Linked DNA regions of Homo sapiens: region 1 is linked to region 2. The links come from fine-mapping of genetic effects on gene expression. Tissue or cell type: whole blood. Region 2 holds a variant in brackets; the other region holds the start of a gene. All regions are shown on one strand. Distances are between the middles of the regions. Region 1 holds the start of AMPH (amphiphysin). Region 2 has its middle 28 kb from the start of AMPH.

Evidence for each region. PIP is the estimated chance that this variant, and not a neighbour inherited with it, causes the effect.
Region 1: it holds the start of AMPH, and the variant in region 2 is fine-mapped to the expression of AMPH in whole blood (TOPMed, PIP above 0.99).

The regions. Positions count from the first base shown.
Region 1 is chr7:38,629,231-38,634,536 of GRCh38, reverse strand. AMPH (amphiphysin) reads left to right here and starts at 3,164. Exons shown (of 21, transcript NM_001635.4): 1 at 3,164-3,254. The coding sequence starts at 3,186.
Region 2 is chr7:38,656,472-38,661,846 of GRCh38, reverse strand. It overlaps the pseudogene KRT8P20. Among named protein-coding and RNA genes, the nearest start is that of AMPH, 28 kb to the right of the region's middle. The variant C/T (reference allele first, on the strand shown) is at 2,730.

The DNA of each region.
Region 1 (5,306 bases), 27 kb after region 2:
CCACTCTAGCATGCCAGGCATCATCGTATCTTGCATGATGGATGCTCATGAGCTATTCTCATGCATACATGCATTTTCCAACAAATATTTACAGAACAGCTACTAAATACCAGCTAAAGTGCTTAGTCAATATTCCAGAATGGCTAGAATGAGCCACCTGGCAACCTGAAAGTGGACACCGATTTACCTTTCTGTTGGAGTGAAATGTTTTGATAACAGTTTGCATGTAACAACTTTTTAATATGCTCAGCATGTATTCCAAATAGAATTATTAAGAAATGACAAGCCTCCCTTTTCCACCTATGTTACAGAACTAGATTTGGGCATCTGAATAATAAGAAAAATTAATAATTTGCAATTTTATTTTAAAATATATTTATTGAGTTCCAAAAATGTGGTTGGGTGGGGTGGGAATAATTACGGGACAGACAAAAGCTGGTACTTTGGTGACTGAGGGCTTGAGCTCTAAGGAAGCAGAAAAAAGTAAATCTGGTACTCGGAACTCCTGTCCCTTGCCTGACAGAGGGAGGGCAGTGATGTCTGCAGAGGGAGCTGTATCTAAAACCAGTGTAGGTGGCTCTGGGGCTCACAGTGCAAGAGTGACTATGGATTGATATTCTCTAGAACACTTCTGGTGTATTCCAGCATTCTGAGACTTGTATCCTCATAGTCAAGATCCCAAGGTAGAGCTGAGATTCTGAACCCTGTATCAGTCAGGGTTCTCTAGAAGGACAGAACTGATGGAACACATATATATATGTGTGTTTTTAAGTATTAACTCACACGATTACAAGGTCCCACGATAGGCTGTCTGCAGGCTGAGAAGCAAGGAGAGCCAGTCCGAGTTCCAAAACTCCAAAACAAGAAATTCAAGTCTGATGTTCGAGGGCAGGAAGCATCTAGCACGGGAGAAAAATGTAGGCTGGGAGGCCAGGCCAGTCTCTCTTTTCACATTTTTCTGCCTGCTTATATTCTAGGCACGCTGGCAGCTGATTAGATGGTGCCCACCCAGATTAAGGGTGGGTCTGCCTTTCTAAGCCCACTGACTCAAATGTTAATCTCCTTCGGCAACACCCTCATAGACATACCCAGGATCAATACTTTGTATCCTTCAATTCAATCAAGTTGACACTCAGTATAACCATTACAGCCCCAAAGGCCCCTGTTTGAGGGAGGTGACTCAAATTCCTGGTTTCTGAGCATAGCCTTTTTCATTGAATGTTGACCAAGTGGTGGATTTTTTTTTATCTCTCTGAAATAAACCTCTGTTTACTTGGAGTGTTATAAGTAGGACTCATCCAAATTTGCTCAGAACTTTCCCACTGTTAGCACTAAGAGTCCTGTGTCCTGGAAATTCCTTAATTCCTAAGGAAACTGGGGCAGATATTTATCCTAGGGAAATAAGAGCCAAGCACATAGACCAGGTGTTCCAGGTACCTACTGTTTTATAATAAAGCATTATAAAAGTGATCGACTCATAAAAACTGTTTTGTTTGCTCACATTCTGCACTCTGGCTGGGATTAGCTGAGTGGTTCTTCTGCTGGTCTTGCTGATGGTTGCTTGTGTGGCTGCAGCCAGCCAGTGAACTGATTGGAGAATGGGCTCAGCTGGGACATCTTGGCTGCTCTCTCTCTCTCTCTCTCTCTCTGCGTAATCTCAGGGCCTCTCCCTTTCTGTATGGCCTCTCCTTGTTATTTTATTTTATTTTATTTTTGCAGCAGGGTAGCTGAATTAGCTGAATTTCCTATATGGTGTCACAGGAATCCCCAGAGGGCAAAACTTGCCTGGTTTCTAGGTTGGGTGGGTGGGGGGGGGACTGGAATTACCATGGCGTCACTTTCACCACATCTTATTGATTAAAGCTGGCCATAGCATCATTCTAGAATCAAGGTGAGGGGACTACAGGGTGACACAAGAGTGAACACCAGGTGGCAGCTCGCTGAGGTCTACCAATGTAACAGTTTCCCCCAGAGGTACAGTAGGATGCTCACCTGGACTCATAGGATTCACTGTGAGTGACCACTTCTGACCTCTGTTTGCAGGGCACCACCTGACTTCTTCTCCTCACACTCTCAGTGAGAATGGAATATGAATAGTTTGACCACTGGTCAGAGCCAACAAGAGCTCTAGGTGTAGGGCAGGTTTATCCCTATTATTCGTACTTCTCCCAAGCATTAATAAGAATAATAGGGATGGTGAGTCCCTGTTAAGGTTGCCAAAAGGTTTCCAAGGAAGCAACAAGTTAGGGGGGACTGGGTCTTCCATGGTTGATGCGAAGCTATAAGGGACTTGACTGTTCCATGCACCATTTCTTGAAGAGTAGTCTATTCTAAGGTTTCTGCCCAGCACAGGAATTTTGGAGATGACCAAAACACATCGCCTGTCTTCCGGAAGCTGACCTTTCTCAACGCGGACCTCCCCGCCCTGCTAACTCTTGTTTTAAAGTTTAAACAAGTGTCAGCGATGGTCTCTCCCCGCTTTGCTCTCCACACGCCTCTCTCCTGCAGCTCTGACTTCGTTGGTTTCCCAGCCAGGGCCCCTCACTGGGCTGTGAGCCTCCTGAGGGTAGGGCGACCTCCATACCTTCTTCTGCAACACCCAGGGTGTATGGAGGGGCCTCTGTTAGCTGGAAACTTTTGGGAGCAGCAAGGGACCAGCCCCATCAGCTCCACTTCAGAGCAGTTCCAATCCAGCTGGCTTCCACATCCCTAGGGTTCTTCCCTTTTTTGTCTCCCCTATTTCTTTTTTTGCTGGAAAGAATCAGGTCCCCTCACTCTCCCCAAATACAAACTGCATTAAAAGAACCCCCGAGCTGCCCCTGGGCCCAGGGACTTCTGCTAGGCTTGGTTCCCTTTCTCCTCTCGAAACTCTTCTATCATCGAGGAGACAATCTGGCTTCTGGCTTTTCCCTCTCTTTTTCTTGGCCTCTTTCTCTTTCTTCCCCCGCCCCTTCTCCCCATGTCACAGCCAGTCCCGACGCATCCCGCCCCCGCTCTGTCGCTTTAAGCTGGTCCCGCCGCCGCGCCCCGCCCTCACCCCTCCGCGCTCCGCGGCTCCCCGCCGCTTCTCCCGCTCCTCCCTTGCTCGGCCCTCTCCTCCTCCTCCCGCTCCTCCTCCCGCTCCTCCGCGCCGCCGCCAGCCCCGCTGCGCGCTCTGCTCTTCGCAGCTCCCCGGACCCGCAGCCATGGCCGACATCAAGACGGGCATCTTCGCCAAGAACGTCCAGAAGCGACTCAACCGCGCGCAGGAAAAGGTCAGCGGCGGGCGGCCGGGGCTGGGGCCGGGGACGCCAGGCGGGGGCTTGGCCGGAGGGCACCGGCTGCAGCTGTGCGGGGCCCGAGCCTCGGGGTGCGGCGCGCTGCGGAGCGGGGCCGGGGCCAGGGACGCTGGGACGCCCTGCCCTCAGCTCGGTGACTGCCGCAAGGCGCGACCCGGGCGCCGCGGGGAGCGGGTCGGGAGGACGCAGCGCCGGGGACCCGCAGACCCTGGCCCCGGAGACGCCGGATATGTCCAGCTCCGGAGCCGGCCCCGGGTTGCCGCTCTCCTGGCCCCAAGCCAGGCAACAGAAGTAGGAGGTGCGGCAGCTTGCCCGCTGCGCCCGGAGCAGAGCGCATCTCCCTGCGCTCGCATCTCCCCGGGCCGGCTCCCAGCGCGCCCGCAGGCAGCTCGCGGGGACGCGGCCCGCAGATCGGGGCGGGAGATTGCAGCAGCCTTCCTTCTTGCGGGGGATTTTGTGGCTACTTAAGTGCAGCAGACACGAACGATTTAACAGAGAAGCCACCAAAAATCTCCCAGGACCAATAGGGTAGGATCGTGATCACACAGTGCTGTCTGGTGAGTTCTGGAGTTCAAAACAGAGATCTAGATATACACACTTTTAATTTTGGTCTATATGTTTGTGTCCCTTTTGACTCCAGTGTCCTTCTTTAGAAGGTCAAAAATAAATATGACCTGAACCTAATAGTTCCTTTCTGCATATTTCTGCACAAAGAAGGACCTTTTATTGCATTTTAAAAAATCCAGATTGCACAAATTGGGTTCTCTGTTGTTTTGCAAGTCCCTCAGTAAATTGCGCACAGTAATTTATTTTTTTTCCCCAGAGACGTGCATGAATGAAACCCAGGTCCGTAGCAAGCACAGCCCAAAGCAGGTGGAGGGGAGTTGTACCAGGCACCAGGCTTGCCTGGCTTCCCTGGTGACTGCTGTATATGACGGCCCTGAGGTCTTCATTTGTGTCCTGAGCAAAGGACATTTCCTTTATATTGTAGCTTGAGCATTGTACTTGAAAATCAACACCGGCTAATGAGCCCCATGATTGGTATCACTTGAACTGTGTTCTCTTTCACGTGGCAGTATTTTCCGTCCCTAGGATATGGGGTGTTTAGCGTTTTCCTGTTTTACTGGAAGTCAGATTTGCCATGTTGCTCAGGATGGCAATGAATTTCCCTCTTCAGACCCAATCTCAATCTCAGGCTGCCTCCCAGTTCCGGCTGACCATGAGTTGCTGAGCAGAGGGGGCACTGATCCCTTTTGTCCCCAGGCCCAGAGGCTTGGTGGCTGCCTCTAGTCCCTCCCTCCACACATGCACACTCTCCATGCAGTAAGAGGATTGTATTTCTTTTAATATCTACCCAAGCTCATCCTGAACTAAAGTGATCCTCCTCCTGCCTCTCCCTCCGCAGCTGAATTAGCAAGGCTGCCTGCTGCCTTCCAGGCCCGGGTTACTTGTGCAGAAAGTAGCCAGGGATCTGCTGGCTTGGGATCTGGGCCAGGTTTTGTCATCCTTTTTCCACACTTCATTTTACCCACTTGTAGGTACTCCTCCTCCTGCCTTCCAAGTAATTACTTGACTCTTCGGTCTGAGGCTTTTCACTGAATCCACTTTCCATCTGTGAAGGAATTTAGTGATATGGTCTGCCTTTTCACATATTGAATTATTTCTTAATCTAGGTCACCAGCTGTTAATATGCTCAAAATAAATGAAAAGAAAACCTAATCTCTTACGGAGCATTCAAGTCCTGTGAATTGTCAAAACTCACTTTTTCACGATCAAGGTCAAGTGTACTTTATGACTGCAGTTGTGGATGGTGGTCAGTCTTCTATGGGAGCGGGGGTGAGAGACCCTCTTGGGGGTTTCAAGCGTCCTATTTTCTTCACTGGGGAAAGGTGCTGATGAAAAGTGCCTGCCGCACCTAGTATAGAGGTTCAAACACTAAGAGGCTGAGAGTATAGGCTCTTCCCCAGGGTGAGTTCTGCCCCCCTTTCTGAGTCTGTGTAGCATCAGGATATGCTTGGCACAAAGAGA
Region 2 (5,375 bases):
AGTACTTGCTTGTCTGGAAAATATTTTATTTCTCCTTTGCTTATAGAGCTTAGTTTGGCAGGATATGAAATTCTTGGTTGGAATTTCTTTTCTTTAAGAATACTGAAAATAGGCCTCCAATCTCTCCTGGCTTGTAAGGTTTCTTCTGAGAAGTCTACTGTTAGCCTGATGGGGTTCTTTTTGTATGTGATCTGACCTTTTTCTTTTGCTGCCTTTAAGATTTTTTTCTTTAGCATTGACTTTGGGCAGTCTGGTGACTATATGCATTGATGATGTTTAGTTTGTACACTATCTCACATGTGTTCTCTAGATTTCTTGTATCTGGATGTCTATCTCTCTAGCAAGATTAGGAACTTTTCTTGAATTATTGCCTCAAATGTTTTCATGGTTGTTTTCTTCTCTTCTGTATCTATTGTTAATGTCCAGTAATTCATAATTTTGGTCACTTCACATAATCCAATATTTCTTGAAAACTGTGTTCATTTTAAAAAATTCTCTTCTCTTTATTTTTATCTAACTGGGTAGTTCAAAAAATCAGTCTTCAAGCTTTGAAATTCTTTCTTCTGCTTGGTGCAGTCTGTTCATAAAGATTTCAATTGTAGTTTGAAATTCCTTAGGTGAGTTTTTCAATTCCAGAAGTTCTGGTTGATTTCTTTTGAAGATGTTTACCTCTTCCTTCCTTTCCTGGATTGCTTTAGAAATGTCTTTTTGTTGACTTTCAACCTTGTCTTGGATCTCATTGCTGCTTACTTGCAATCCATGCCTTGAATTATTTATCTATCTAGCTATCATTTCTGAGTTTCCATTTTAGTTAGGGACTATTGCTGGGGAGCTAGTGTGATCCTTTGGTACTGTCACTACATTCAGATTTTGCCAGGTTTCTTGCACTAGTTCCTTTTCATCTAGAGATGCTTGCCCTTCTAATTTTAGTAACTATTTTCATGCAGGTAGAATTTTTTCTTTTTCTTTCCTTTTTTCCAATAATATTATTGTTTTTTTCTTCTTTCCCTTTCCTTCCTTCCCACCCCAGGGTGTGTGACTGTAGAGAATGCTGGGTAGGGTCTTTTGGCTTTGCTTGCGTAGCCCTATGCTCTTCTGTCACCAGGTTTTATATTGGGCTGTGCAATTTGACCTACAAGCCAATAGATGGCGCTTATGGGTAAGAGCTGGCTGTGTGGCCCGGCATGGTGGCTCGTATCTGTAATCTCAGCATTTTGGGAGCCAGAGGAAGTAGGATCCCTTCAGTCCAGGAGTTCAAGAACAGCCTGGGCAACATAGCGAGACCCTGTCTCTACAAAAAATGAAAAAAATTGCTGGTCATGGTGGCATGTGCCTGTGGGTCCCAGCTACTTGGGACAGTGAGGTGGGATGATTGCTTGAGCCCGGGAGGTCAAGGCTGCAGTAAGCCATGATCACACCACTACACTCAGGGTGACAGAGTGAAAACCTGTCTCAAAAAAAATGCTATGTGGATGGGAATATATGTGATCCCATCCACATAGCATTTTTTTTTTTTTTACTGGAAGAAGCTCTCGCTTGCCTCAGGAAATGGGTTGATTCATGGAGTGCACGGTGGTCTGAGCTCCCTCTTCAGCCCCAGTGGAGGGGAGGAAGCAAGATGGGCAGGGCCAGACCAGGCAGGTCCACCTGTAGGTCCCCTGATGGCAGGCACAAGTACCAGCACTGAGGGAGAATCCAGTGGATGGCCACCTCGCATCCAGAGGTGTGCCTCGGCATGGAGCTGCAAGACCTCCTCATCCCTGAGTTCTCTGCCTGGAGATTGGGGTCAGCCTAAACTTCTAACCCAGGAGGGTAGGTGCTTCAGACGCATGGAGATTCTGCCTGGGTGTAGAGTGGGGAGGGCCTCCTGCACCAGGATCTCCGCACAGGAAGATTGGGGTGACTCAGACTGCTGTTCCAGTGAGCAGGTGTCTGAATGCCTGGAGATCTGTCTGGCATGGAGTGGAGAGGGCCCCTCTGCACCCAGATCGCTGCACGGGAAGGGTGGGGCGGCTCAGGTTGCCAATCCAGGCAAACAGCTACTCAAATCACTTTTTATCCCACCACTGCATATCTCTTTTCTCCTTCACAACCAGATTTCTTGAAAGAGATGCCTAAAATTTTTGTCTCCACTTTCTTAACTCCCAATCTTTCCTCAACCTATTTAAGGCTGAATGTCATGGCCCATCACTCTCCCATTCCCACAATCACTGCCCTGAACCAGCTCTGATAAAGTCAACAGTGATCTCCCTGTCCTCAAATACATCCAATGATGTTCAGACCTTATTTTACTACATGATTCAGCAATGTTCTTAAATACTATTAACAACTTCCACCTTCTTGCAGCTCTTCCTCCCCTTGCCTTGGGTGCTACCACATTCTCCTGGTGTCCTTTCTACCTCTCTGATGCTCCTTCTTAACCTAGTTGGTGGGCTTATCTGCTACTCAGCCATTAAAAGTGAAGTCTGTCAAGGTGGTCTTTTTTCATTATATGCTTTCTTTCCAGGCAACTGTATCCAAGATCATTAATTTTAACTGCTATCTGTAAGCTATTTATATCTAGTTATGTCTTTGGCTCAGACATTTCCTTTGAGTTCCAGATGTATATATCCAACCACCTATTTCATATTTTCCCTTGATATGTCTCAAAGGTATTTCAGACACCTCATGTCCCAGACTGAACTGAGGCTCTTCCCCCACAAATCCTGTCTTCTGCCAGTGGTTCCTGT[C/T]TCATGAATGACTCACGCATCTTTTACTGGCCATCTTCTTTCCCACCATAGGGCCTTTGTGCTTCCTGATCTAGCTTCATGATATGTTCTTTCTTCTCTTACCTTGGGTAACTTCACAATTCTTTATTTGTCATATGTCTCTTCCGCAGAGAAATTTTCCATGACCCACAAGCCCAGGTCAGCTTTTTGTATTACATTCCTTTTTACCTGGAACACTGAACTCAGTTGGAAGGTTTGCTTGTATTAATTAGCATGATTATTGAGTAAACCTCTGGGACTCCCACTGTTTGGTCTGTCTTAGCTGCCTCCCCAACAGAACCACCCCTGTTATTGTTCCAGTATGTTGCCAGTGCCCAGTCTAGTGCCTGACATACATGGAGCAGATGCTCAATAATAGCTGTTTAAATTACATATGTGCAAGCATAAATGGTTATAAACATGGTTAGCATAGAGTGTGATACAACTTACTCCCTATGTAAAATTTAAACAATTTGGGTGCTTTTTCTATTTTGGGATGTGGATGATTTTATTATGTGCTGCTTTTATTTGGTGTATGGTTAATATCAGGGGAGAGGTAGATTTCAGTGGCATATTGGATACTCTAATGCACCTGGAATTATTATAACACTTAAAGGCAGATAAGATCCCAGGGGCCCAACAGGAAGAAGGTAAGGAAAACTACTCCTGAAAAGTAACATCAAAAGCCCCCCATTGCCTTCCTCTTTTGCAAAACAGCCTATCTGGCTAAAAGCTAAAAGTTTATAATGGGATGTGGATTATTATGGTAATATGAAGTCAAGGAGGTGATTTGAGAAGAAGACATAATGTAGACAGAGGCTTAGTCTATATAGACTTTGGGCAAAAGTCTCTTTCTTCGAGATAGGCTTTACATGTTGCAATGCCCGCTCTCCTGAATATGAAGAACCTTATGAGGACCATGAAACTGTTTTAAGGTTCTACAGGCAGATTTATCTTTTGTTTTTGTACATTCCCATATAATTTAGAAATTTGTTCTAATAGGGCTGGTGCAGTGGCTCACACCTGAAATCCCAACACTTTGGGAGGCTGATATGGGATGATCTCTTGAAGCCAGGAGTTCAAGACCAGCCTGGGCAACATAGCAAGATTCCATCTCTACAAAAAAAATTAATACATTAGCCCCATGTAGTGGCATGCACCTGTAGTCTCAGCTACTCAGTGGGGCTGAGGTGGGAGGATCACTAGAGCCCAGGAGTTGCAGGTGACAGTGAGCTATGATTGTGCTACCACCCTCCAGCCTGGATGACAGAGTGAGATCCTGACTTTAAAAAAAAGAAAAAGAAGATGTTCTAATAGGATTTAGAAAATAAGAGTCCTGGGGGCTGGGCGCACTGTCTCACGCCTGTAATTCCAGTACTTTGGGAGCAGAAGGTGGGCAGATCATGAGGTCAGGAGATTGAGACCATCCTGGCCAACATGGTGAAACCCCATCTCTACTAAAATACAAAAAATTAGCTGGATGTGGTGGCACATGCCTGTAGTCCCAGCTACTCGGGAGGCTGAGGCAGGGGAATTGCTTGAACCCAGGAGGCGGAGGTTGCAGTGAGCCGAGATCCCGCCACTGCACTCCAGCCTGGCAACAGAGCAAGACTCCATCTCAAAAAATAAATAAATAAATAAATAAGAGTCATGGCAAAGGTAACCGAGGGGCACTGAAACCATCCAAGAAGGATGATGGCAAACATTTATATAGCAGTGATTATAGTCCGGGAACTGTTCCAAGGGTTTAACATATATTAGCTATTTTGATCCTCAACACAACCTTATAAAAGAAGTATTATTTTTATTCTTATTTTGGAGATGAGGAAACAAGAGCAGAAAGGAGCTGAGTAACTTATGCAAGATGATTACTGTTGTGCCATGGTTATGAACTTTCTCAACAGGAAATGAGTTTAGACATGAAAAAAAAGGCAGACTACTGTGTTCCATAAAATGAACAAATAAGAGCAGGCGAAAGGAAACCTGCTGACAGCCCCAGAATTAAGATAGACTCTTAATGGGGTGGTTGTTGACTTAGAACTGGGGAGGGGCACAGTTCTTGCTTTGCAAATTTGCCTCCTCTGAAGGTTTTCTTACTCCTTGTGTGAGTATTTTCATCTGTCTATATATGTCCTAACATTCTGCAGATTCTTCTCAACACATTGAAAATATGAAGAAAATCCTCATTGGCCTGCAGAATGAGACTGATGGGACCTTGTGGGACTGATTTTTTTTTTTTGAAAGAGCTAGCTGAGGTTTTATTTTGTACAAAAAAAAAAAAAAAAAAAAGCAGTTGAATTGTTTTGTAGCTGGAGGCATGGGCAAAGGGTGTCCCCAGGCAGTAAACTCCCCCGTGGGTGGGCTGAGAGCTAGGGGTGAGCCTCAGGTGGGTCTCCTGTTCCCTTTGCTCCCCTGCACAGCGGCCTCCCTCCCCGGCTCTGGGGCAGCCACAGGAGGGGCAGGCTGGGAGGGGCTGTCGCAGCTGTTCACTTGGGCAGAATGTCAGAGGACTCGGACGCCAGCTTCCCATCGCGGGTCTTGATCTTCACAGCCACGGCCCTGGTGGAGCTGGTGTGGCTGAAGGAGCTGGAGCCCGCGCCAGAGCCAAAGCTGGAGCCCAGGCCGTAG